Linked DNA regions of Homo sapiens: regions 1, 2 and 3 are each linked to region 4. Evidence: fine-mapped expression QTL. A gene starts in region 4. Each other region holds a variant in brackets. All regions are shown on one strand. Distances are from middle to middle.

What was found. PIP is the estimated chance that this variant, and not a neighbour inherited with it, causes the effect. A credible set is the group of variants that fine-mapping cannot tell apart.
Region 1: its variant is the best candidate, but not a certain one, in a credible set for the expression of FRMD3 in atrial appendage (GTEx, PIP 0.58).
Region 2: its variant is the best candidate, but not a certain one, in a credible set for the expression of FRMD3 in left ventricle (GTEx, PIP 0.70).
Region 3: its variant is the best candidate, but not a certain one, in a credible set for the expression of FRMD3 in whole blood (INTERVAL, PIP 0.83).

The regions. Positions count from the first base shown.
Region 1 is chr9:83,234,502-83,240,484 of GRCh38, forward strand. All of the region lies in intron 2 of FRMD3-AS1 (FRMD3 antisense RNA 1), which reads left to right. Among named protein-coding and RNA genes, the nearest start is that of FRMD3-AS1, 18 kb to the left of the region's middle. The variant A/AT (reference allele first, on the strand shown) is at 2,974.
Region 2 is chr9:83,226,734-83,232,716 of GRCh38, forward strand. The region is part of intron 1 of FRMD3-AS1 (FRMD3 antisense RNA 1); the gene reads left to right. Among named protein-coding and RNA genes, the nearest start is that of FRMD3-AS1, 10 kb to the left of the region's middle. RefSeq lists an enhancer at 1,035-1,736. The variant T/C (reference allele first, on the strand shown) is at 2,429.
Region 3 is chr9:83,261,415-83,267,397 of GRCh38, forward strand. All of the region lies in intron 13 of FRMD3 (FERM domain containing 3), which reads right to left. All of the region lies in intron 2 of FRMD3-AS1 (FRMD3 antisense RNA 1), which reads left to right. Among named protein-coding and RNA genes, the nearest start is that of FRMD3-AS1, 45 kb to the left of the region's middle. The variant C/T (reference allele first, on the strand shown) is at 2,447.
Region 4 is chr9:83,534,910-83,540,892 of GRCh38, forward strand. It overlaps FRMD3 (FERM domain containing 3), which reads right to left and starts at 3,492. Exons shown (of 14, transcript NM_174938.6): 1 at 3,176-3,492. The coding sequence starts at 3,322. RefSeq lists a silencer at 1,445-1,739.

The DNA.
Region 1 (5,983 bases), 300 kb before region 4:
ACTTCAGGCTCACTAGATCCAAGTCTAACTCATTATCTTTGTACCAAAACAGTATTTTTTAATTAAAATTTTAAAAAAAATAATTATAAATAAAAAACACTGGCTCTATTGGAACTGAGCCTGGCTAATGACATTGTCTTTTCCCACTCACCCAAACTAGGCATTTAAAAATCAAACTTGACTCCCCCACTCTGACTCTATGCCAATTCTATCAGTCGCTGAGTCACTGTTTGACCCTACTCCAAGCTTTCCAATCTTCTCAGGAACCATGCTGATATCAAGACTGTGTCCTGTGGAATATCTAATATATGTGACACCCGGAGGAGTCATTTTTTAACACCTCCCTTCTCTATACAACAAAATTATTTTCAATAATGGCCATGAGTATGATGATAATTATGTCTTTATAATACGTGTAATTGACAATATCATACATAATTATGGATTATATATATACACAAATAATGCTCAGAAAAACAAAGCAGTGAAAATGTTCTATTAAACTATGTATAATCTTATATATAATTATATAAGTTTCTAAAATAAAAGGAAATGCCTACAACTATTTTTTATTAATTTTTATATCCACCTAAATGGCTGAACTTTGATCCTTTGGTTACAGTCTGATATATTAATATTTACGTAAATGACAGTCCAATAACTAGGTTTAAATAAAACTAAAATGTCTGCAGAAGTATAGTTTAGGCAATTACATTTTAAATTTTTTTAAATGAGATGGACTCTTGCTATGATGCGCAGGCTGATCTCAAACTCCTGAGCTCAAGCCATGCTCCCACCTCGGCCTCCAAAAGTGCTGGGATTACAGGCATGAGCCACTGCGCCCGACCTAATTTAGGCAATTACTAATGTGAGATTTTGTTTTCTTATTTGTTCTTTTGTTTGAAGACAAATAATTAACAATTAAAAAGAATACATTGCAATTTTAAAATGTTATCATATTCAGAAAATATGTATGAAATAAAATTTGCACTTATAAAACAAAAATATTACACTTCATAGTTGGCAAACATTTTAAATTTTAAATTAAAAAATTTTTAAATTGTGATTGAGTCACACTGAATGGTGAAATTAAATGAATTCAAATCCTGTTTCTTCATCTTTGCAATCACTGTGCTATCATTGTTTCTTTCTAATCTACATAGAAATAGGTCTCACCACAGGGGTTGAAGATTCAACTGCACCCAAAGCAAGATCCAGTGTTTCCAAACTGTTAGGAGCTCTTGAAATGGATGTGGGTAACCAAGGCTATTGTGCCAAGGGTTCTGAGAATCAACTTCCACATCGAACATTTATCAAAAGGTAAATAGCACAGGACAGAGGACCAGAAAAAAGAAAGTCACGCAGAGAAAGAAATCAGGAGACCTTGCATTTGTAACTTGACTATACATTTGCAATATACTCCCTACTTTGAACAACTTAGAAAAAAACATTTCTTTCTTACAAACACAGTTTCCTCCTGAAAGGAATTTTGATGTATTCTATTTTCTGATGTCTTACTATTTTGGATGTGTATCCACGTTATAGGCAACGAGATGTTTTGTTTATAAATAAATGTAGAAGAAAAATAGATGTTTTTTAGAAGCAAATTCTGGTTCTTGTTATATCTTCTGAAACTTCCAAATCCAATTTTGTTATGCATTGCCACCATGATGCTATTACTTCAGTAGAACAGGATGTCCTCAAAGAGTGAAATGGTTACGATGAGTCTAGAATGACCTGGAGGTGCCAGATTATGGGCCTTAACTCCTAGCATTTCTCAAGTAGTTACTACATGTCCAAGACTTTGCTAAGGGATTTGCAAATTCTAACTTATTTTTAAATTCCATAACAGCTCTGAGATAAGTGCTGTAGTTAAACATAATTTTAAAGATGAGGATGCCAAGAATTCAAGAGATCAAATGAGTTACCTAAAGTTACACCTAAGAAGAGCAGGAAAGCTGAGACCAGAGCTGAGGCCATCTGGCTGGAGAGCCTGAGCTCTTAGCCATCATATTACACCGACTTTCTGTTCCAGATATGCCAGCTACTTCTATCTTTATATCAGTATCTCCTAGGCAGCAATTTTATACTCTGGCCTTTTGTCATTTTTACAGAAGCACTAATAATGATGCACAAAATTATTTTGTGTAAAAAAATTAAAATTTTTGTTTTTAATAGTTTTTGTAGAATCTATTAAAATATTAATATTCATAGTTCATAAGAAAATATTAATAGTTATTTCATAATAGCTTAAGTAACTATTGAACAAAAGTTAAAAATTTATTAGAAGTAAATATCAATGGTATAAATCAAATTATTTAATCTTTATGCACAAATATTACTTATCGCTAAAATGAAACTGGGTTCAGCATTATCTATTTTTCATTTTGATAGAATTAAGTACTGACAAAACTTGCTGACAAATAGAAATGGAAAGGTTCTTGGTTATAATAAAGCTACTCAACTCGTACTCCTCACAAAATATGTTAAAAAATAACATAGTGAACCACAACAAATATAATTTTTGCTAACAGCTTTGTTGAGCTATAATTAACATACCATAAATAATGCATAAAATTCATTGGTCTTTGTTCACAGAGTCATGCGACCATCGCAACTACATAATTCAAAGAAAAATTTTATCACCCAAAAAAGAAACTCTGTACCTATTAGCAGTCATTCTTCATTCTCCCTACCCGTGGAAATCACTAATCTACTTTCTGTCTCTATAGATTTGCCTATTCTGGACATTTTATATAAATCAAATCATGCAATAGATGGCCTTTTGCTTTTGGCTTCTTTTACTTAGCATAATGTTTTCAAAGTTCATCCATGGTGTAGCGTGTACCAATACTTCATTCATTTTTATGGAATGGATACACTACATTTGTTTATGCAATTTACGAACCGATGGACATACGGGTTGTTTCCACTTCTGTGCTATTATGCAAAGTGCTGCTATGAAAATTACCC[A/AT]TTTTTTTGTGTAAATATATGTTTTCTGTTCTCTTGAGTATATACCTAAGAGTGGAATTGCTGGCTTGTATGGTAACCTTATGCTTAACTTTTTGAAGAACTACGAAACTGTTTTCCAAAGTAGCTGCACAATTTTTTTTTTTTTTAGACGGAGTCCCGCTCTTTCGCCCAGGTTGGAGTGCAGTGGCGCGATCTCGGCTCACTGCAAGCTCTGCCTCCCGGGTTCACGCCATTCTCCTGCCTCAGCCTCCGGAGTAGCTGGGACTACAGGCGCCCGCCACAGCGCCCGGCTAATTTTTTGTATTTTTAGTAGAGACGGGGTTTCACCGTGTTAGCCAGGATGATCTCGATCTCCTGACCTCGTGATCTGCCCGCCTCGGCCTCCCAAAGTGCTGGAATTACAGGTGTGAGCCACCGCGCCCAGCCTAGTAGCTGCACAATTTTACATTTTTACCAGGAATATATGAGGGTTTCAATTTATCCACATCCTCAGCAACACTTCGTGGCCTGTCTTTTTATTATAGCCATTCTTGTGGGTGTAAAGTAGAATCTCAATGTGGCACTGATTTGCATTTCTTTAATGACTAATGATATTGGACATCTTTTCGTGTGCTTACTATCCATTTGCATATTTCCTTTACCAAAATGTCTATTGTGATAACATTTCCTACTTTAAAAATTGGTTATGTTTTTTATTACTGAGTTGTAAGTATTCTTTATGTATTATGGGTACAAATTCATTATCGGATGTATGATTTAAAAATATTTTCATCCCTTCAGTGTTTTGTCTTTTCACTTTTCTTGACAGTGTCTTTTAAAGCACAAAAGTTTTTAAATTTATCTATTACTATCTAATTTACCTATTTTTTATTTTGTCTCTAGTGCTTTTGCTGTCCTTAGAAACCATCCTCTCTAATCAAAGGTTACAAAGATCTGATCTTATGTTTCTTCTAAAAGTTTTGTAAATTTTATTAAACACAAGGTCTCTGATTTATTTTGTGCTAATTTGTGTATACAGTGTGAGAAATTGGTCCAATTTTATGATTTTGCTGTTAGATATCAGTTGTTGAAAAGACTATTCTTTCCCCTTAGAATTGTCTTGTCATCTTGTTCACAATCAATTTTTCACAAATGCATAGTTTTGTTTCTGGACTCTCAGTTCTATTTTACGGATGTATATGTCTATCCTGATGTTGGTACCACACTGTCATGATTACTGCAGCTTTGCATTAGGTTCTGAAATTGGGAAGTGCGAGTCCTTCAACTTTGTTCTTTTTCAATATTATTTTGGTTAGTCTGTACCTTTTACATTTCCATATAAAATTTTAGGACCAATTTGTCAATTTCCACAAAACAGGAAGCTGACATCTGCTAGGGATTGCCTTGAATCTGAAAATCAATTTCAGGAGTATTGCTATCTTAACAATATTAAGTTTTCCATCCACGAACATGTGATGTCTTTTCATTTGTTTAGGTCTTCTTTTTTTCAGTGAAGTTTTGTTGATCACAATGTACAAGTCTTGTTACAGTCAGTAGCTAGTCAGACATGAACAGGGCAGGAAACACCAGGAATGTCAGGCGAACATCAGGTGATGGTCAGGCGGTTCTTAACTGTCTTTCTAAAATAATCGGTCACAGCCAGCACCAGGGAGAGACAATCTCCCAATAGAGAGAAAAAACCTGAAACTGGCTATCAGCAGCTTCCCAAAAAGATCTCAGGAGTTGGACAAATGGGCTCAATCATGCACAATAAGAGACAAAATGGTGGAGTTTAACTGGTACATGACCTTCCTCTACAAACTGGTAAGGGAATGCCTCAAGTGAGCATGTGTGCAATTTCAGTGAACATATTGCACATGCAGCCACATTGTGCATGCAGATAGCTCAGCCCAAGGGAAGACCCAGGGGAGAAGTAATGCAAGACCCTGGAAGCATGCCAATGTATAAAACCCCAAGTTAAAAGGTCAAACAGTGCACTTGATTTCTCAAGTCCCCTGCTTGGCCCTCTTCCAAGTGTACTTTACTTCCTGTCATTCCTGCTGTAAAGCTTTTAAATAAACTGTCACTCCTGCTCTAAATCTTGCTCAGTCTCGCACTCTGTCTTACGCCCCTCAGTTGAATTCAAGTATGATAGCTGTGGAGTTTTCAGTCTTTACTAGATTGAGGATATTTTTTTCTATTCATTGTTCATTTTTTTTTAATTGTGAAAGAGTGTTGGATTTTGTCAAGTGCATTCTCTGCGTCTGTTGAGAGGATCATGCAATTTCTGTCCTTTATTCTACTAACATGGTATATTTCACTGATTGACTTTCATGTGTTAAACAACCTTGCATTCCTGGGATAAATCCCACTTGATCAAGGTATATAATCCTTCCCATATGTTGCTGGATTCAGTTCAATTGTAATTTTTTTGTTGTTAGGGATTTTTTTCATCTATAGTCATAGGATACATTTGTCAGCACTTTTGTTTTCTTGTAATGTCTTTGGTTTTGGCATCAGAATGATACTGACCTCAGAGCATGGGGAATTGCCCCCTCCCTTCTGTTTTTTGGCAGTTTGTGAAGTGCTGTTTGTTTTTTAAGAGTTTGGTATGATTGACCAGTGTAGCTATCATCACCTGCACTTTTCATTGAAGAAATAATTTTTTATTACTAATTCAATCTTTTACTTGTTATAGATCTATTGCAATTTTCCATCTCTTTGTAAGTTAGTTTGTGTCCCTCAAGAAGTTTTTCTGTTTTGTCTAGGTTAGATAAATTGTTAATACACAACTTTTCATAGTGTTTCCTTATATTCCTTTTTATTTCTGGAAGGTCCATAATGACATCCTCTATTTCATTCCTGGTTTTAGTAATTTTAATACTGTCTTTTTACCTTGGTTAATCTAGCTAAAGGCTTGTTCATTTTATTGGCATTTTTCATTTTAAAGAACGAACTTTTGGTTTTATAGATTTTACCTATTGTTTTTCTATTCTCTTAATCCCCAATGTAACAAAATTGAGAGGTGGAA
Region 2 (5,983 bases), 310 kb before region 4:
TATCAGAGACTAGGATTGCAACCCCTGCCTTTTTTTGTTTTCCATTTGCTTGGTAGATCTTCCTCCATCCTTTTATTTTGAGCCTATGTGTGTCTCTGCACGTGAGATGGGTTTCCTGAATACAGCACACTGATGGGTCTTGACTCTTTATCCAATTTGCCAGTCTGTGTCTTTTAATTGGAGCATTTAGTCCATTTCCATTTAAAGTTAATATTGTTATGTGTGAATCTGATCCTGTCATTATGATGTTAGCTGGTTATTTTGCTTGTTAGTTGATGCAGTTTCTTCCTAGTCTCGATGGTCTTTACATTTTGGCATGATTTTGCAGTGGCTGATACTGGTTGTTCCTTTCCATGTTTAGAGCTTCCTTCAGCAACTCTTTTAGGGCAGGCCTGGTGGTGACAAAATCTCTCAGCATTTGCTTGTCTGTAAAGTATTTTATTTCTCCTTCACTTATGAAGCTTAGTTTGGCTGGATATGAAATTCTGGGGTGAAAATTCTTGTCTTTAAGAATGTTGAATATTGGCCCCCACTCTCTTCTGGCTTGTAGGGTTTCTGCTGAGAGATCCGCTGTTAGTCTGATGGGCTTCCCTTTGAGGGTAATCCGACCTTTCTCTCTGGCTGCCCTTAACATTTTTTCCTTCATTTCTACTTTGGTGAATCTGACAATTATGTGTCTTGGAGTTGCTCTTCTCAAGGAGTATCTTTGTGGTGTTCTCTGTATTTCCTGAATCTGAACATTGGCCTGCCTTGCTAGATTGGGGAAGTTCTCCTGGATAATATCCTGCAGAGTGTTTTCCAACTTGGTTCCATTCTCCCCATCACTTTCAGGTACACCAATCAGACGTAGATTTGGTCTTTTCACATAGTCCCATATTTCTTGGAGGCTTTGCTCATTTCTTTTTATTCTTTTTTCTCTAAACTTCCCTTCTCGCTTCATTTCATTCATTTCATCTTCCATTGCTGGTACCCTTTCTTCCAGTTGATCGCATCAGCTCCTGAGGCTTCTGCATTCTTCACATAGTTCTCGAGCCTCGGTTTTCAGCTCCATCAGCTCCTTTAAGCACTTCTCTGTATTGGTTATTCTAGTTATACATTCTTCTAGATTTTTTTCAAAGTTGTCAACTTCTTTGCCTTTGGTCTGAATGTCCTCCCGTAGCTCAGAGTAATTTGATCGTCTGAAGCCTTCTTCTCTCAGCTCGTCCAAGTCATTCTCCATCCAGCTTTGTTCCCTTGCTGGTGAGGAACTGCGTTCCTTTGGAGGAGGAGAGGTGCTCTGCTTTTTAGAGTTTCCAGTTTTTCTGTTCTGTTTTTTCCCCATCTTTGCGGTTTTATCTACTTTTGGTCTTTGATGATGGTGATGTACAGATGGGTTTTCGGTGTGGATGTCCTTTCTGTTTGTTAGTTTTCCTTCTAACAGACAGGACCCTCAGCTGCAGGTCTGTTGGAATACCCTGCCCTGTGAGGTGTCAGTGTGCCCCTGCTGGGGGGTGCCTCCCAGTTAGGCTGCTCGGGGGTCAGGGGTCAGGGACCCACTTGAGGAGGCAGTCTGCCGGTTCTCAGATCTCCAGCTGCGTGCTGGGAGACCCATGGCTCTCTTCAAAGCTGTCAGACAGGGACATTTAAGTCTGCAGAGGTTACTGCTGTCTTTTTGTTTGTCTGTGCCCTGCCCCCAGAGGTGGAGCCTACAGAGGGAGGCAGGCCTCCTTGAGCTGTGGTGGGCTCCACCCAGTTCCAGCTTCCCAGCTGCTTTGTTTACCTGAGCAAGCCTGGGCAATGGCAGGCGCCCCTCCCCCAGCCTCGCTGCCACCTTGCAGTTTGATCTCAGACTGCTGTGCTAGCAATCAGCGAGACTCCGTGGGCGTAGGACCCTCCGAGCCAGGTGCCGGATATAATCTCATGGTGCGCTGTTTTTTAAGCCGGTCAGAAAAGCACAGTATTCAGGTGGGAGCGACCCGATTTTCCAGGTGCCGTCCGTCACCCCTTTCTTTGACTCGGAAAGGGAACTCCCTGACCCCTTGCGCTTCCCAAGTGAGGCAATGCCTCGCCCTGCTTCGGCTCACGCACGGTGCGCGCACCCACTGACCTGCGCCCACTGTCTGGCACTCCCTAGTGAGATGAACCCGGTACCTCAGATGGAAATGCAGAAATCACCCTTCTTCTGCGTCGCTCACGCTGGGAGCTGTAGACCGGAGCTGTTCCTATTCGGCCATCTTCATTTCCTCGCTATTTCTAACGCATCTGCAGTGCTTGTCCCCGCTGAAGTCTTGAACTCAAAGTCATTCAGGATGATTGGAATCCACGTCTTCCAAATTTATGTTAATGTTGACAATTTGATCTCCTTTCATGAGTCACAATGTTCATTTTTGTTATTATTTTTATTTTAGATTCAGGGGTACATGTGTAGGTTTGTTACATGGATATATTG[T/C]ATAATGGTGAAGTTTGGGCTTCAAGTGAACAAATCACCCAAATATTGAACATTCTACTCAATAGGTATAACCCATGAAATCAACCCTCACCAACCCCTCTTCCACCCTCCCCCATTTTGGAAACCCTAGTGTTTGTTGTTTCCAAATTTATGTGCATGTGTACCCATTGTTTAGCTCCCACTTGTAAGTGAGAAGACACAGTATTTGATTTTCTGTTTCTGAGTTATTTCACCTAGGATAATGGCCTCCAGCTCCATCCATGTTGCTGCAAAGGGCATAAGTTCATTCTTTTAGAAAGCTGTATAGTATTCCATGGTTTCTATATACCACATTTTCTTTATCCAATCAAACATTGATGGACACTTAGGTTGATTCCATGACTTTGCTATTGATGAACATAAATATTCTCAGTGGCATCTAGAATGGTAAATCCTTTCCAGAAGCTTTTCCATTTATCCAGATCCATCAGTGGAATCACTATCCATGGAAACTATAGCCTTCCAAAGTTTATTTATTAAATAATAAGACTTGGAATTCAAAATTACTCCTTAATCAATGGGCTACAGAATGGATGTGATGTTAGCAGGCAAGAAAACAACACTGATCTCCTTGTACATCTCCATCAGAGCTCTTGGGCGACCAAGTGCATTGTCAATTAACAGTAATATTTTTTAAAGAAATCTTCTTTTCTGAGCAGTAGGTCTCAACCGTGTGCTTAAAATATTCAGTGAGACATGATGAAAACAGATGTGCTCTCATCCAGGCTTTGTTGTTCCATTTATAAAGCACAGGCAGAGCAAATTTAGCATAATTCTTAAGGGCTCTAAGGATTTTCTAAATGGTAAACAGACATTGGATTCAACTTAAGGTCACCAGCTGCATTAGCCCCTAACAAGAGAGTCAGCCTGTCCTCTGAAGGTTTGAAATCAGGTATTGATTTCTCCTCTCTACCTGTGAAAGTTCTAGATGGCATCTTCTTCCAATAGATGACTGTTTTGTCTACATTGAAAATTGGTTGTTTAGTGTAGCCACCTTCATCAATGACCTTAGCTAGAGATCAATAACACTTGCTGCTTCACCTTGCACATTTATGTTATGGAGGCGGCTTCTTCAACTTCATGAATCAAACCATTGTTAGTTTTCAACTTTTCTTCTTCAGCTTCTGCGCCCCTCTCAGCCTTCATAGACTTGAAGATCTAGGTCCTTGCTCTGGATCAGGTTTTGGCTTAAGGGAATGTTGTGGCTGGTTTGACCTTCTATCCAAAACACTAAAACTTTTTCCATCTCAGCAGTAAGGCTGTTTTGCTTTCTTATCATTAGTATGTTCACTGGAGTAGCACTTGCAATTTTCTTTAAGAACTTTTTCTGTGCATTCACAACTTGGCTAACTGGTGCAAGAGGCCTAGCTATTGGCCTATCTCAGTTTTCAACATGTCTTCACCACTAGGCCTAATCATTTCTAGCTTTTGTTTTAAAGTGAGAGATGTGTAACTCTTCCTTACACTTGAACACTTAGAGAGGCCATTGTAGGGTAATTACTTGGCCTAATTTCAATATTGCTGTATCTCAGGGAATAGGGAGGCCTGGGGCAAAGGAGAAAGATGGGGGAACAGCTGGCAGCTGGTCAGTGAGGCAGTCAAGACACATACAACATTTACTAATTAAGTTCACTGTCTTCTGGGGGTTTGGTTCGTGGTTCCCCAAAACAACTACAATGGAACATCGAAGATCATCGATCACAGACAACCATAACAGATACAATACTAATGAGAAAATTTGAAATATTGTGAGAATTACCAAAATGTGACACAAAGACACCAAGTGAGCACATGCTATTGGAAAAATGGCGCCGACAGACTTATTGACGCAGGGTGTGCCTTCAAAGTAAAAAACAACAATATCTGCAAAGCACAATAAAGCAGAGCACAGTGGAATGAAGCATGTCTGTAAAGGAAACCTGTATGCAAGCAAAGAGGCAGAGATCAAAGGGAGCCAGTCCTACTTAAATAGAAAGTAATGTCTAAGAAGAAGATAGGGCACATGCCTTTCTCTTGTCCTTGGAGCTATTTATGGAGCTCCCCCTGGAGGAAGATAGGGCACATGCCTTTCTCTTGTCCTTGGAGCTATTTATGGAGCTCCCCCTGGAGGAACGTAGACTCTTTCCTTCAAGCTAGAATTAGCATGTCTGCAAAAGGATTTAGATGATCTGCTGCTGGTGGAGGAGTAGAGCAGTCCATGTGGACTCCCATGAAGGGAGCAATTTGCACCCAACTTAAATTTGATCTGGACACAACAAGCCAAACTTTTGGAAACTTAATCCTTTGGCAGGACCTGTGGGCTAGGGGCCCAAGACATGATGGGCATGCTGTTTAGAGAAGCCAAAAATCAGCAGTTGAAAAGAGAAACTGACTTTTGTTGCAGTTGGAACTAAAGCAACGGGCCACACCAAGAGGCCAATGGGATGGCCAACAGCTGGGTCCCAGGGACAAGATTCTGAGGCTGTGCGTCAGAAGAATTGGATGCTTGCAGCCAACTAGGATACATAAAATAGTAGAATGGAGAAGTCATGTGCCAGAGTAAATAGGGTCTTCCTAAAATGAGAGCCTCTCCTGCCATAGGGGATGTTAGAGGTAGGCATTTGGTAGCAGCAGAAAGCCTGGGATCAAGACAGATAGGTGTATTTTCATTGTGAAAAACTATAAAGCAGAACACTCTGAGAGACCCTCTGCTTAGTCCTTCTGCCCCACATTGAAGGACTTAGCATTATTCCAATTCTGAAAAATTAAAATCCAAAGTTAGCATTGGTTATTCCTGGGGAGTAAGATTATGGGTGGTTTTTATTTTGCTCTTTGTAACTTTCTTTACCAATTCTTTATCAAGCCTACTGCCATGGATCTGGATTCTTTTCATCATCAATTGTTTTAATTGGAAAGAAGGCAGAGCCTTTTTTGTAATGAAAGACCCAAATGAAGTGAATTTTAGAGAATAAGTTATAGAAATGTCTGGCCTTTTGTGTGTGTGTGTGTGTGTGTGTGTGTGTGTGTGTGTATCTGTACACACATACATAGAAAGAGAGAAAAACAGAAAGGCAAAGAACATTCCACTTCAGGAAGACTTAGCACAGTCCGGAGAAACTATCCCATGGAAGAGGAAGGAAGTTTTAGGGCTGATTGAACCCTCTGAAAAAGTGCCAATAGGGAAAAATATTTGAAGATGGCCTTGGCTATGTTTTCTATTCTATGGTCTTCTATATCACTTCTCCAACTCATGGGAACCAACTCACACTGGAAGACACAGAAGCTAAATTTGACTATGCTCTCTATCCCCCTAAATTCCCTCCTTTGGTACATTCCCTTTTCCAAAACCTTCCCTATAATTCCTTCTGCTTAAAATCACTTCCTCCACCGAAGAATATGTTTACCAAGCTCCTTGTTCAAGGCAGGGACACCTTTATAGAATATCTTTCCTAGGCCCCATAGTTGACTGAATCTCTGAGACCCAGGTTAGCCTTCTACCAACAATCCTGACCACATGCTCAGCAGCATGGCGGCCAC
Region 3 (5,983 bases), 270 kb before region 4:
AAAGTCTCCAATGATCACCATATTGCTAAAGCCAATGAGTGTTTTCTTCTGTCCTCCTACAGATCACTCAACCTCTGAGGTTCCATACTCTCTTGGTTTCCATCCAATGATTCTAAGCTACCTCTGTCTTCACAGTCTCTTCACTACTTGTGAGGGCCTAAACTCTCTGCTCTTCTTGCTCTGTACCCTCTTTCTTGGTGTTTCAACCATATTTATGGCTCCAATATGCTACTACAGTATTGTTCAACCTGGTACTACAGGTCACCAGTGTCCCTTAAGGTTCTGCCAGCTGTCCCTTGAAAAGAGTGTTCCATGGTCAGCTAAGTTTGGGAAACTGCACACTCTATCACTCTTTTGGATATTACCATCAAGGTTAAAAATCCAAACTCTGAAGTCACCTTTCTGGGTTCGAATCCTGGCTTTGTACTAATTGCCACCGACAGTTTCTTAATTACCTAATTGTGCTATTCCCAGTTTCCTCATCTGTAAAATGGGGAAAATTTCAGCACATACTGCATGCAGATATTGTGTGGAGAGGAATACCTGAGTTAATACATGCAAAGTGCCTGACACTGGTAAGCACTCAATAATATTACTACTAGTATATAAAAATGTCTGCAAGGTCCTGAATAGAAGAAATCAGTTTCATGTAACTCAATATTTCTCAAATTAATTCTCCCAGAGAACATAGAACACAACTTAGTTTGGAAAATCCATGTTGCTGAATCTCTGGTCTATCTCAACTCAGAACCCTCCAATGAGATTTACCAGGCAACTGTACATAGGAACATCGACTTCAATACATCCAAACCCAAATGCATCATCTCCCTCCCAACTCTTTACCTCCAATAACACACACTATGTAGTAAATGACACCATATTTTCTTCAGTTTCTTATATCAGCAATCCAAGGATTGGCCAAAATTACTTGTTTTCATGCACTGCTCACATCTGTCATTAACTTCTGCAAACTCTGCCACCTTCTTCATTTTCAAAGTTATCCCTGCCTCTCCATTCTTATCACTTCTTAACTGGATGATAGCAATGGCTTCCTAACTGGTTTCCTTGATTTCAGTCCAGCTTATTGTAAGTTGTTTCCAGAATAATCATTTTTAAATGCCTAATTATTTATATCAGTCCTCTTCTTAAAAGGTTTCTCAGCCTTTCAGGTTAAATATTAAATTAAACTCTTTAGCCTGGTACAAAAAGCATTACTCTACCACATACGCTTCCTCCCTGCCCACCTATTGAGGGGTTCCCATATGTGTCATGCTATGTCATGCCTCTGTGTCTTTGCACAGACTGCTACTTCTTCCTGGAATGTCCTCTGCACCCAGATAGCTCTTACTCATCCTCTAAGACCCTATGTGTTATGTCCTCTGGGAAGGCTCTCCTATCCCCCACTCCCGGACTGAGATATATGCTACTTATCTGGTACTTTTCATGGTTGACTCCTTATGGCCCATTTCTCTCCAAATGATTAGTCTAAGCCAGTCGTGGTAATTCCAGTCTCTTGGTCACATTTGGTTTTAAAACGGGCATATGGGCCAACCCTGAAAATAAAAATCAAAGGGGAAGAGGGGAGGGGGCCTGAGGGGATGGATTTTTGAGAAAGGTTTTTACTTCTAAGAAGATCATCCTGGAATGGTACAGACTCCTTATCTGTTGACATTGTTGTAACTGAAAGAAACAGCAGAAACTGGCAGCCGTCCTATGGTGCTGACAGCAACGGCATGAGGGGAAGCTTGGCTGACTGAGAAGAGTGATGTAGAGATAAAATGAAACTGGTCCTCAACCCTGGAATCCTCTCTGACTCTGGACTTGTCTTGGATAATAAATCACCTTATTATTTAAACCAGTGCTAATTAGAATTCCTCATTACTTGCTGATGATGGCATCCTAAGTGATGCAGCTGTCATACCATCTTCTGGATCTCTTTATCTTCACAGTCAGTCATTACACTGTGCTGCAGATTTATTATGGGTTTTTCCACTAAAATTTTATCTCCTGAAAGGAAGGGACTTGAAATATCTACTAGAGAATTGTAGAAATCATTACATGTCATGGCAAACATTATATAATAGCAAAACGTTGGAAGAATTCCCACCAAAGTCAGGAACATTACAAAGAATTATCACCACACATCAGTATTGGCCCTAGCTAATGCAATATGATGAAGACAAAAAATAAGAAGTGTAAATATTGGAAAGTAAGGCACAAAACTCTAGTTCCAGATAATAGAATTATCTACATAGAAAAGAGATGAAAATGAAACAGGACAATTAATAAGAGTTTAAAAAGGTGTTGGAATGCAAGATCAACATATTAAAGCAGGTGGTTTACTGCATACAGAAGAGACAATATAAAAAATGATAATGGAAAGTATCATTCAAAATAGCCAAATGCACAAATTAAAACATCCATATATATCCAGGAATATCCATAA[C/T]AAGAAGCCTGGAAAACTTGCATGAGGACAATGTTAAAATATAACAAAGTAGCATAAAAGAAAATCTCAATAAATAGAAAAACATAATATTGTTCCTGAATAGTGGCCTTGATACATTGAAAATTCAGCTCTCCTCTCATTAATCTAAAATTTGATGCAATTTCAATAGAAAATCCAACACACTTTCAAAAAAGACAAATGGTAAATGTACACATTAATAATCAAAAACTTCTGGAAAATAAATCAGTGAGCACATCCAGACAATGGAATATTATTCAGTGCTAAGAAATGCCATGAAAAGCTATAGAGGAAGCTTATATGCATATTATTCAGTGAAAGAAGCCAGTCTGAAAAGACTGCATATTGTATGATTCCAACTAATTGACATTCTGAAAAAGGCAAAATTATGAATATCATAAAAAGACCAGTGGTTGCCAGGAATTAGGGGAAGAGAGAGAGAAATAGGTGGAACACAGAACTTTTAGGGCAGTCAAACTATTATGTATGATACAACAGGGGTAGATACATGCCATTAAACATTTGTCCAAACCCACAGAATGTACACCACCAAGGTGAACCCTAACGCAAACGATCAACTTTGAATAGTCATGATGTCTCAATGCAGGCTCATCAAGTGTAACAAATGTACTTCTCTTGTGTGGGATGTTGATGATGGGGGAGGCTGAGCATGTGTGAGGGAAATTCCCCATATGTGGAAAATTTCTATGCCTTCCTTTTAATTTTACTGTGAACCTAAAAATCATTCTAAAAGTATAACTTCCTTTGAAAAAAAGCAATGCAGGGGAAACCTGACCTACCTGATATTAAAACTATACTGTATAGTAATGGAGCAGGAATAATAAAAGATATAATTCAGAAATATACCCTTTAATATAATGGAAAATTTGTTTATGAAAAAGTTTTGCAAAAAGTTGCTAACCAATTGTGGGGGGAGGGGGGAAGGTATATCCCTATACCATGTCATGCACGTGTAAAAATTCCTAAGAAGATAAAGGGTTAAACTAAAAAAAAAATTAGATACCACGTGAAATTGCCAATTTTGAAGGTCATAAGCAGTTATTATCAGCAATTTCATAGAGTTCAAGTAAATGCATTAATTATGAAGAATAAAAACAGGAAACACTTTTATAATCTTGGCATGGGGAAAACTAACATAAAAACAGAAACCTAAAATATACAGAAAGCAAATAGTTTGCACATACAGAAGTTCTCTGTGCATATAAAAAGTGCCCGTGTCGGCCAGGTGCGGTGGCTCATGCCTGTAATCCCAGTACTATAGGAGGCCAAGACGGGCGGATCACGAGGTCAGGAGATTGGGATCATCCTGGCTAACACGGTGAAACCCCGTCTCTACTAAAAATACAAAAAATTAGCCGGGCGTGGTGGCAGGCGCCTGTAATATCAGCTACTCGGGAGGCTGAGGCAGGAGAATGGTGTGAACCCGGGAGGTGGAGCTTGCAGTGAGCCGAGATGGTGCCACTGCACTCCAGCCTGGGCAACAGAGCGAGACTCTTAAAAAAAAAAAAAAAAAAAAAAAAGTGCCTGTGTCATAAAGTTAACATTAAATAAAAGTTGAAAGCCAAGAACCAATTAGGAGAGAAAACATTAACATTTGTAAAATATAAAGGATTAATATTCACATTATAAAAGAAATACTACAATCTATAAGGAAAGGACAAAAACACAATAGAAATGTACTAAGTAAACAAATAGGCAGTTCTGCAAAGAAGAAATGAAAATACACAATTATTTGAAAAGATCCTCATCTTCACTGATAAAAAGGGATATGCAAATTAAAACAATGAAATCTCATTTTCCTTTCAACCATTTTGCAAAACTTTTAAGAAACTGGCCATATCAGGGTGAGTGATTATGTGGGGGAATAGTCAAGCTCATACTCACCTTGTTAGAATTTGCTTTTAGAGGATAATTTGCCCATTTCCATTAAAAGTTACAATTCGTATATCCTTCAACCCAACAATTATACTTTGAAGCATCTATTAAAGAGAAATGCCTCTGTATACATATGCATTGCAGTACCATCTGTTACAGCCAAAAAACGAGCCATAACCATTTCCAACAATAATTTGGTAATTAAATAACTGAGTTATGATATCTTTATATTACCTAATATTATCCAGCCATTTATAAAAAGGATGTATATTAATATGTATGGATATGGAAAGTCCTTCAAGTCATATGATAAAGTAAGAAAACTAATTCTGCAATAATATATCTTGAACAATCCCATTTATAAAAAAAAAAAATCCTATATCCCATGTGGCAGTATTCATAGATCAACTATTGGGAGTATTAACGGAAAGCATCTATATATTTGTTCTTTTAAAAACTCTTTTATACAAGAACACATCATGTATTATGTCATTATACAAATATAATCAATTTCGTCTCAATTCACTTAGAAGTCAGTTTCACACATGTGCATGAGATATAGCCAATTACAGACATTTTCCAGGTTGTATTTTGTGTTAATCAATTGGTAAAAACCACATTTATACATATAGCCACAGCTTCTTTCTTGCTGTAAGCTCTAACTTTTTAAGTTCCTATTTCAATTCCTATTTCCCTCAAGGACCATAAAATAACAAAATATATTTACAATGAAAAGGAAATTGGCAGAAGGTCAGTTCCAATTCTTTGGCCAATATTTTGAGTAAAGCTCTGCCTTGAGGATAAAAGTGGTGCTCCGCCTCACCCCAGCAAGCAAGCAGATCTGAGCTCTGACCCTTTCAACAATGAAAGGAGGGGGAGCGTGTTGTGATCATCCATTCTGCCTTCTCCCTAATCTTCTCATGTTATGGAACAATCTGGAGGTACACACCACCACTGCCTCCCTCTCCCTCCTGACTCACTGCTGACTAGGGTGTAATTTGTATTTATGACAACTTTATATCATTTGGAACACACCCTCCTGTTTCCCCTTTGCACTGGCTTGCTCACCCTCCTTCCCACTCGTCTCTGCTTTTCTCCCTTCCTCTCTCTCTTTTCATCCTTATCAAAAACCTCTGACACCAAATTCACCCTGGGCCTCTCTCCACCAGCAGTGAGCAGGAAGCTGGAAGCCCGCACACTTCAGGAACAGGATGACAGCCCAGGGCACCACACATACCAGTGTTACGAGCTGTGACCTTGGAGCCGAGTCTCAGCAGACGAACAAACACATTACTGTTGCAGTGGTTCACCATGTGCAATTGGAGGCTTCGTCGAGTCTGGATCTTGACCAAGCATTTTGCCATACTGGTTATTCCAATCCCCTTGGTCTCCTCGGCCTGCATGGCCCAGGGCAGCCTTTCCCTAACAGTCCATTCTGTTTTAAAGGACCTAGGCAGGACCCACTGAATGAATCAAATGTCAGGTTCCTAATGCGGCCAACAGAAATAACTCATGAGGGATCAGCATTGGGAGGGGAGGAGGGAGGGGACGCTATTTTTAAACTCTCCACTCACCCCTCTAACAAACAATGAAAGATTATGCATCATCCCTACTCTAGCCTTT
Region 4 (5,983 bases):
TCAGTCACTGGTTTAAATTCCCCTACCTTGGATTTACCTCTTTCCATGTCTGGAAATTTCATTGAAACTTCAGCTATTTTAACTATGGGGTAATATGTCAAAGACATACATAAGCTTTGGATCCAGACAATTCTGGATTTGAATTCCAGCTGCTCATTCTCTTTTTAGAGATGTGGCCTTGAACAAGTCACTTAAGTTATTAGCTTCTCAGTTTTCTTACCCAAAAGAAGGGAATAATACCTACTCAAAGGTTGGTGGTAGAGATCAGACATAATGAGTGGAAAAGGCTGGCTCATGAGAGATGCTCAAGAAATGGCACCTAGAGCTATTCACATTGTCTCAAGCAATAGTCCTGAAGGTTTCTATCATCTCTTGCATCTACCATGTGTGGCCACTCTCCAGCACCTTGCTAGAGAAACCTGTTTGAGTGGCTCATTTTTCTTTGAATCTGGAATGCTTACCTACTAGAGAACACAGACTAATGAGCTCCCAAGGATGTGTGGCTTGAGTTTCCCCTACTTATTTTGGGGCTCCATAGGCAGCACTCCTGTAGTGAACAGGAGTGAACAACTAACACATGTCCAAGAGCTCCTGCTCCTCCTACAGAGCCTCTAGATCAAGCTCATCCAACCCATGGCCCAGGACAGCTTTGGATGCAGCCCAACAGAAATTCATAAACTTTCTTAAAACATTATGAGACTTTTTGTGATTTTTTTTTTTTTAGCTCATCAGCTATCGTTAGCGTTAGTGTATTTTATGTGTGGCCCAAGACAATTCTTCTTCTTCCAATGTGGCCCAGGGAAGCCAGAAAATTGGACACCCCTGCTCCAGAGCCAGGCAGACACCAGGGATGAGAGCTCCTAACGCAGACAGGCAGATGTGGGCTATGGAGAGAGGGTGACATTCTGTGACAATATATACAATCCTTTAACTTTGTAGTTCTATAGAAGGAAGGAAGCAAACACAGATGGATTCACCCAGAACAAGTGCCAGTAATTCCAAATGGTTTTGTTTCGCATTGTTTTTTAATCCTTTTGTTCTCACTCTAAGCAAATGGGAAGTCTTTGTTACCTGATACCCGGAAGGGCAATTTCAATTCCTGGTCTGGAGTACTCTAGGAAAGTGTGAGGTCTAAAGTTATCCAAATAAAATATTTTAATTTATTTTAATTGGTTAAATAATAATTGTAATTTGGGGGCAGAAAGGGCAGAAAAAGACAAATCACAAAATGAAACATCATAATTTTTTAAAAATCAGTGCCCAAGCCAACATTTTGAAACATAACATTTTAACCTCTTTGGCACTAGTTGGGTCATAAGCACTGGAGTTTTTCAAACTGTTGTTAGACTGGCTACAATTTATTGTTTCTCAAAACACAAGACAACAAATACATGTCCTTTGGGGAATATTTATTATTCTAAGGAAGACTTCATCCTGAGGGAGGGGAAAAAAATGTCAACACCAAGTGGTACAGGGCAGAAGAGGGCTGAGAGACAGAGGAGAACTCAACAGCCTCTCTCCCTGACGGCCCCTCCATCATCTACACATTCATTATGGGTTAAAGGACCTGTACACCCACTTTAGGACTTAAAGCAAAGTGCACAGTCCACACTCTCTGGATCACAAGACTATTAGTACATGCCAGATGCTTCTGTGCAACCCTTGTGGCAGTAGAAACACTGCCTATCCTGCTAATCCTTTTATTATTAAGTTTAGCAGTGCTGCTTAGCTCAGAATGAAATTCAAGCTCCCCCAGAAAATTCAATGGGAGCCTACTTTCCTGGGAGATCATGGGGCATCACATTCCTACCTTGACACTTGTCCGGCTGTCAGGTTACAAATTAATTGCAACTGCCCCCAACATGTCACACACTCCCACTAACAAAAATTAAATAAAAATAAAACAGGGAAAGTCCTTTCATTCCTTCATGGTTTGCACAGCCTAGAGGCTGATTCCTACTCTGGGAGATGCTGCCCCACTCACCTCCCACTGACATGGGTGGTGTGCCCTGTATTACACTAAAAAAAAAAAAAAAAAAAAAAAGCTCAGTCCCAGAGCCTCAAGACTCGACTAGGGTAGGTGAGAAAGGAAATCCCAGAGATAAACAGTTAAATAGATTTAGAAGTCAGAAGTTAATTGTGCTGAGCCCTGACACAACCTTTCCTGATTGTGTGCGCACCGAGTGGGGCATCTTTGGGGTCCTGGAAGAGGGGCTCCCACCTGCCTACATATTCACCCACAGCAAATATGCACACGCACGCGCAACCACATGCACACACACACCTTTGCACCTCACACTAGCTCTCCTGACAGCCCAGAGGCACTTACTACCCGAGGACAGGGCTGCCAGCAAAGCTGCCTTCTCCCAAACAACTCGCCTTCTCCTCCAACTTGGGCGACAGTGAATGTCCACCAAGATTCCACGGGGCTCTTTTACCCAGGACCCAGGTTCCTGCAGGGCTCCCCACTTGCTGGCCTCACAATCCCTTTTCCTTTCTCCGAAACACTCAGACTTCACACATTCCTTTCGAGGTAGCTCCAGTCCGGCGCAGCGCGCGCTCCATCCCTCAAGGCTGGCGCCCAGGGCAGCCCGGCCTCTCTCACTCTGGGGAAACTTCGCCACCGCCCCACGCGGAGAACTAAAGACCACCGGCGGAGGGTGAGGGGGACCGACACGGAGCGGAAAGCAGGTTCCGGGACTGAGGGCGTCTCCGGAGCCTGGGCGCGGGAGACAGAAATGAGTGAACCCAGCTGATGCATGCCTTCTCCACGTGGAAGAAGGGAGGAAATACCAGTGGGCGACATGCAGGTGCCCCTCTCAGCCCTCGGAGCTCCCATCTCCTGGCGGAGTAGGGCCCAGAGGGGCCAGAGTCCCTCCGGAGGCAGCTGCCCCGCGCCCCTAGCCCGGGCGCAGTGAGACGCGCGCGCAGGGTGCACGCGAGGGGAAGGAGACTGGGCGCGGATAACGCGTGCCTGGCGCTTGCAGGGCACCATGCCCCTCCATGCCAGGATAAGGCCCCCCACCCTCAGAGGCCTGAGGAATCGAAATCTGGCTTTCTAGCAGTCCCCCAATCCCCTCCGGGAGTGGGTTCCTTGTTCTCGCATGCCCACCGCAAAGGCCCCCCGCCCTGCTCCCGGCGTGTGCCCCGCGCCCTCGCCCGGTTCCACGCGCACCTGGATGTGGCAGGAGATCTCCGAGTCGTCCAGCAGCCGGATGGTGCATCTCATCTCCTGGCTGAGCGATTTGACGCTGGAGCTCCGAAAGTGGATCATTTTCATGGTCCTCCTGCCTCTCGGCACACAGTGGCAGGAGGCGAACATGCACCGCGGCCGTGGGGAGCGAGCGGGAGGCTCAGGGCCGGCGCGGTGCTCGCCTGCGCGGACACACACGCTCGCACGCACTGTCCGGGACACCTGGGCGCGGCTCAGCCCCGGGACATCGGCAGCGTCGGGCGCCTGCGGACACACATGCCCAGCGGCCGGGGCGCGGCGGGCGGGTCCCTCCCTCTGTTCGCTCGCCTCCGCCTCGCCCCCTCCTTTCCCCGCCTCCTTCTGTCGCGCGCGCTCGTGCGCCTCCCTCTGCCCGGGCTCGCTCGCCGAGGACGCCCAGAGCCTGAGACCCCCGGCGGGCTCGCGACGCACTCACTCCCACGCGCGCCGAGCAGCTGAAGGAGGAGGCGGAGGGATGGCTGGCGCGGCTGGCCCGGGTGCCCTGGTGGTGGCCTGCTCAGTCGCAGCCGCCGCTGCGTCAAGCTGGGCCCGACTGCCTTCCTCAGCCTCACCGCCTCCTCCCTCCCCTGGCCGCTGTCGCTCGGGCTCCCGGTTGTGCTCGTCCCGGCCCCGGCTCCCCAACGCGCTCGACAGCGCCCTGCTCTGCTCAGCTCCAGGGACCTGGCGCGGGTAGGGGACGGAGAGCGATCCTGACCCACACCGCCAGGGGGATTCCGCCTCGGGAAAGGATTGCTGGGCCCAGGGCGAGTGACAGAGAGAGTGACAGCCCTGACACGGCTACACCAGGAATATCGCTAATAGTAAAAATCTCTGGTACTCATGGAGATTGTTTAAGCCATTGTTTTATTTAATGCTAGCTAGGACTCAGTCTCTTTCTCCAAAAAAGAGCCTTCCATGTGCAAATCCTCCTTTAAATCTCCCAACATCTTAGTGTGATCTTTGATAGCATACCTTTGACCCGAGCAAGAGGGATAGGTTCCTATCCTACTCCCCTGCTTTACAGACCTCCTCCAGTTCCCGGTTGCTCAGGAATTAAGAGGTCTAATGGCAAAGCGGATGTGCCCCATCCCGTTTTAGTCCAATCTCTGGGTATTGAGGACTCTGGAATTCCCCACGCGCCTCCAGGGTGTTGAAGGTAGGAGGTATCCTGCCTCTCTGTTGTCCCCAAGGTGGCTAGAGCCACTGTGTCAGGTACCGTAGGCCCGAGAGTGGCCAGGAGCAGCTGTTGAGTCAGGGGTATGGAGCTTGAATGTGAGCACTAGAATGTCCAGGAGCTGGGAGAGATGGAAGTCCTCTCACCCTGTTGCTCTTGCCGGAGCAGAACAGGTCATTAGGAAGGAACATTTGTTAGAAGAGGAGGTGTTGACCAGCTGTCAGCTTTTTCAAGGTTTGTGCCTGCATAGAGTCCCCTCATCCAAAGATATGCCCTGTCCTGGGGGTCGAGGAAGAGTGGCACACAAATTTTACCTGCCCTGGACAGTCTGGTGGGCCATATATTCTCTAGGACACCTAGTGGGGTTGGCTAAGGTTTGGGGGAGTCCGCATTGCATTTGGACTTCTCTCTCTGCCTGCTCCTGCCTCCTCTCCCTGTTGATCACTAATAAATACCACACAGGACAAACTCAGTCTCAGTATCTGCTCCTGGAAATTCCAAATTGCAACAATTTGTCAAGATAGGAGGATAGAGAATGTTTTATGTAGCACTCAATAGCTGACTATTGCTTATGAATATTTAGATGATAGTATGGGGCATTCATGTAGGCTCTTGAGCTGGGCCCTTCAAATGTTAGGGCAGATCCTGATGGAGAGGTCAGTATTGAGGGTATGGGAAGATGTGGATTTCATTCTTGGCCCAGCTACTGGCTAATCCTGGGGATCTTTGAAAAGTCTCTCCATTTCTTTTCTCATTTCAAAGGAGAGAACACCTGTTCATCCCACAGGTGGCTGGGAAGCTGGTATGACACCGGGTCAGTGGAGGACATCTTACAGCTGTAATCTGTAAATCCCCATATGCACATATGAGGTGGCAGGGATGGGACCTGCCCCAAGTTGAAAACTGGATCATCTCTGCTAGCCAAAAGAGCAGACAGCCCAGAGATCAAAGAAAAGTCACCAGCCAAACAGTCCATGCTTTTCTTTTAAGACCACACACACACTTGTCCATCCTATTATAGTGACCGTTAGGCTCCAAAAGAGTCATATCAATACCCAAAAATTGTTACCCCAAATTCCAAGGAAGCAAAATAAGACCAACAAGGACAGTAGTGAAAAAGACAGAATAAAGATAACCCAATGTGGGACTGTAAGAAACAGAATTTTGAAGAAATGAGAAGAATCTGAGATTGGTTGTCTGGCCTGATTAGGAATAAAGGCTGAGATTCAACTAGTATGAAAATACAGGCTCTGGAAGCACTTGGCATGACAGCTAGGTAAATTACCAAGTATGGTCACCTGGATTGAACTACCCAATGAAGACAAGGCTCTGGGAAACCAACTGGCCATTGTCAACAATAATAATAATAATATGAAGATTAGGAAGAACTCAAAGAATGAACTCAAGGGATGAGTTTAAAACTGGACCACTGAAAGAAAAGTAGTGATGCACTAAGTCCTAAATTATCAGCTTATGACTTTTAAACAACTGTATTTTTACAAACAACAGAGCTCAAAGAATATCTTGTTAATTGAGCCACAAGGCCAAAACTGAAAAACCAAATTCACAATTTCATCTACAAATCGCCAAATTACAAA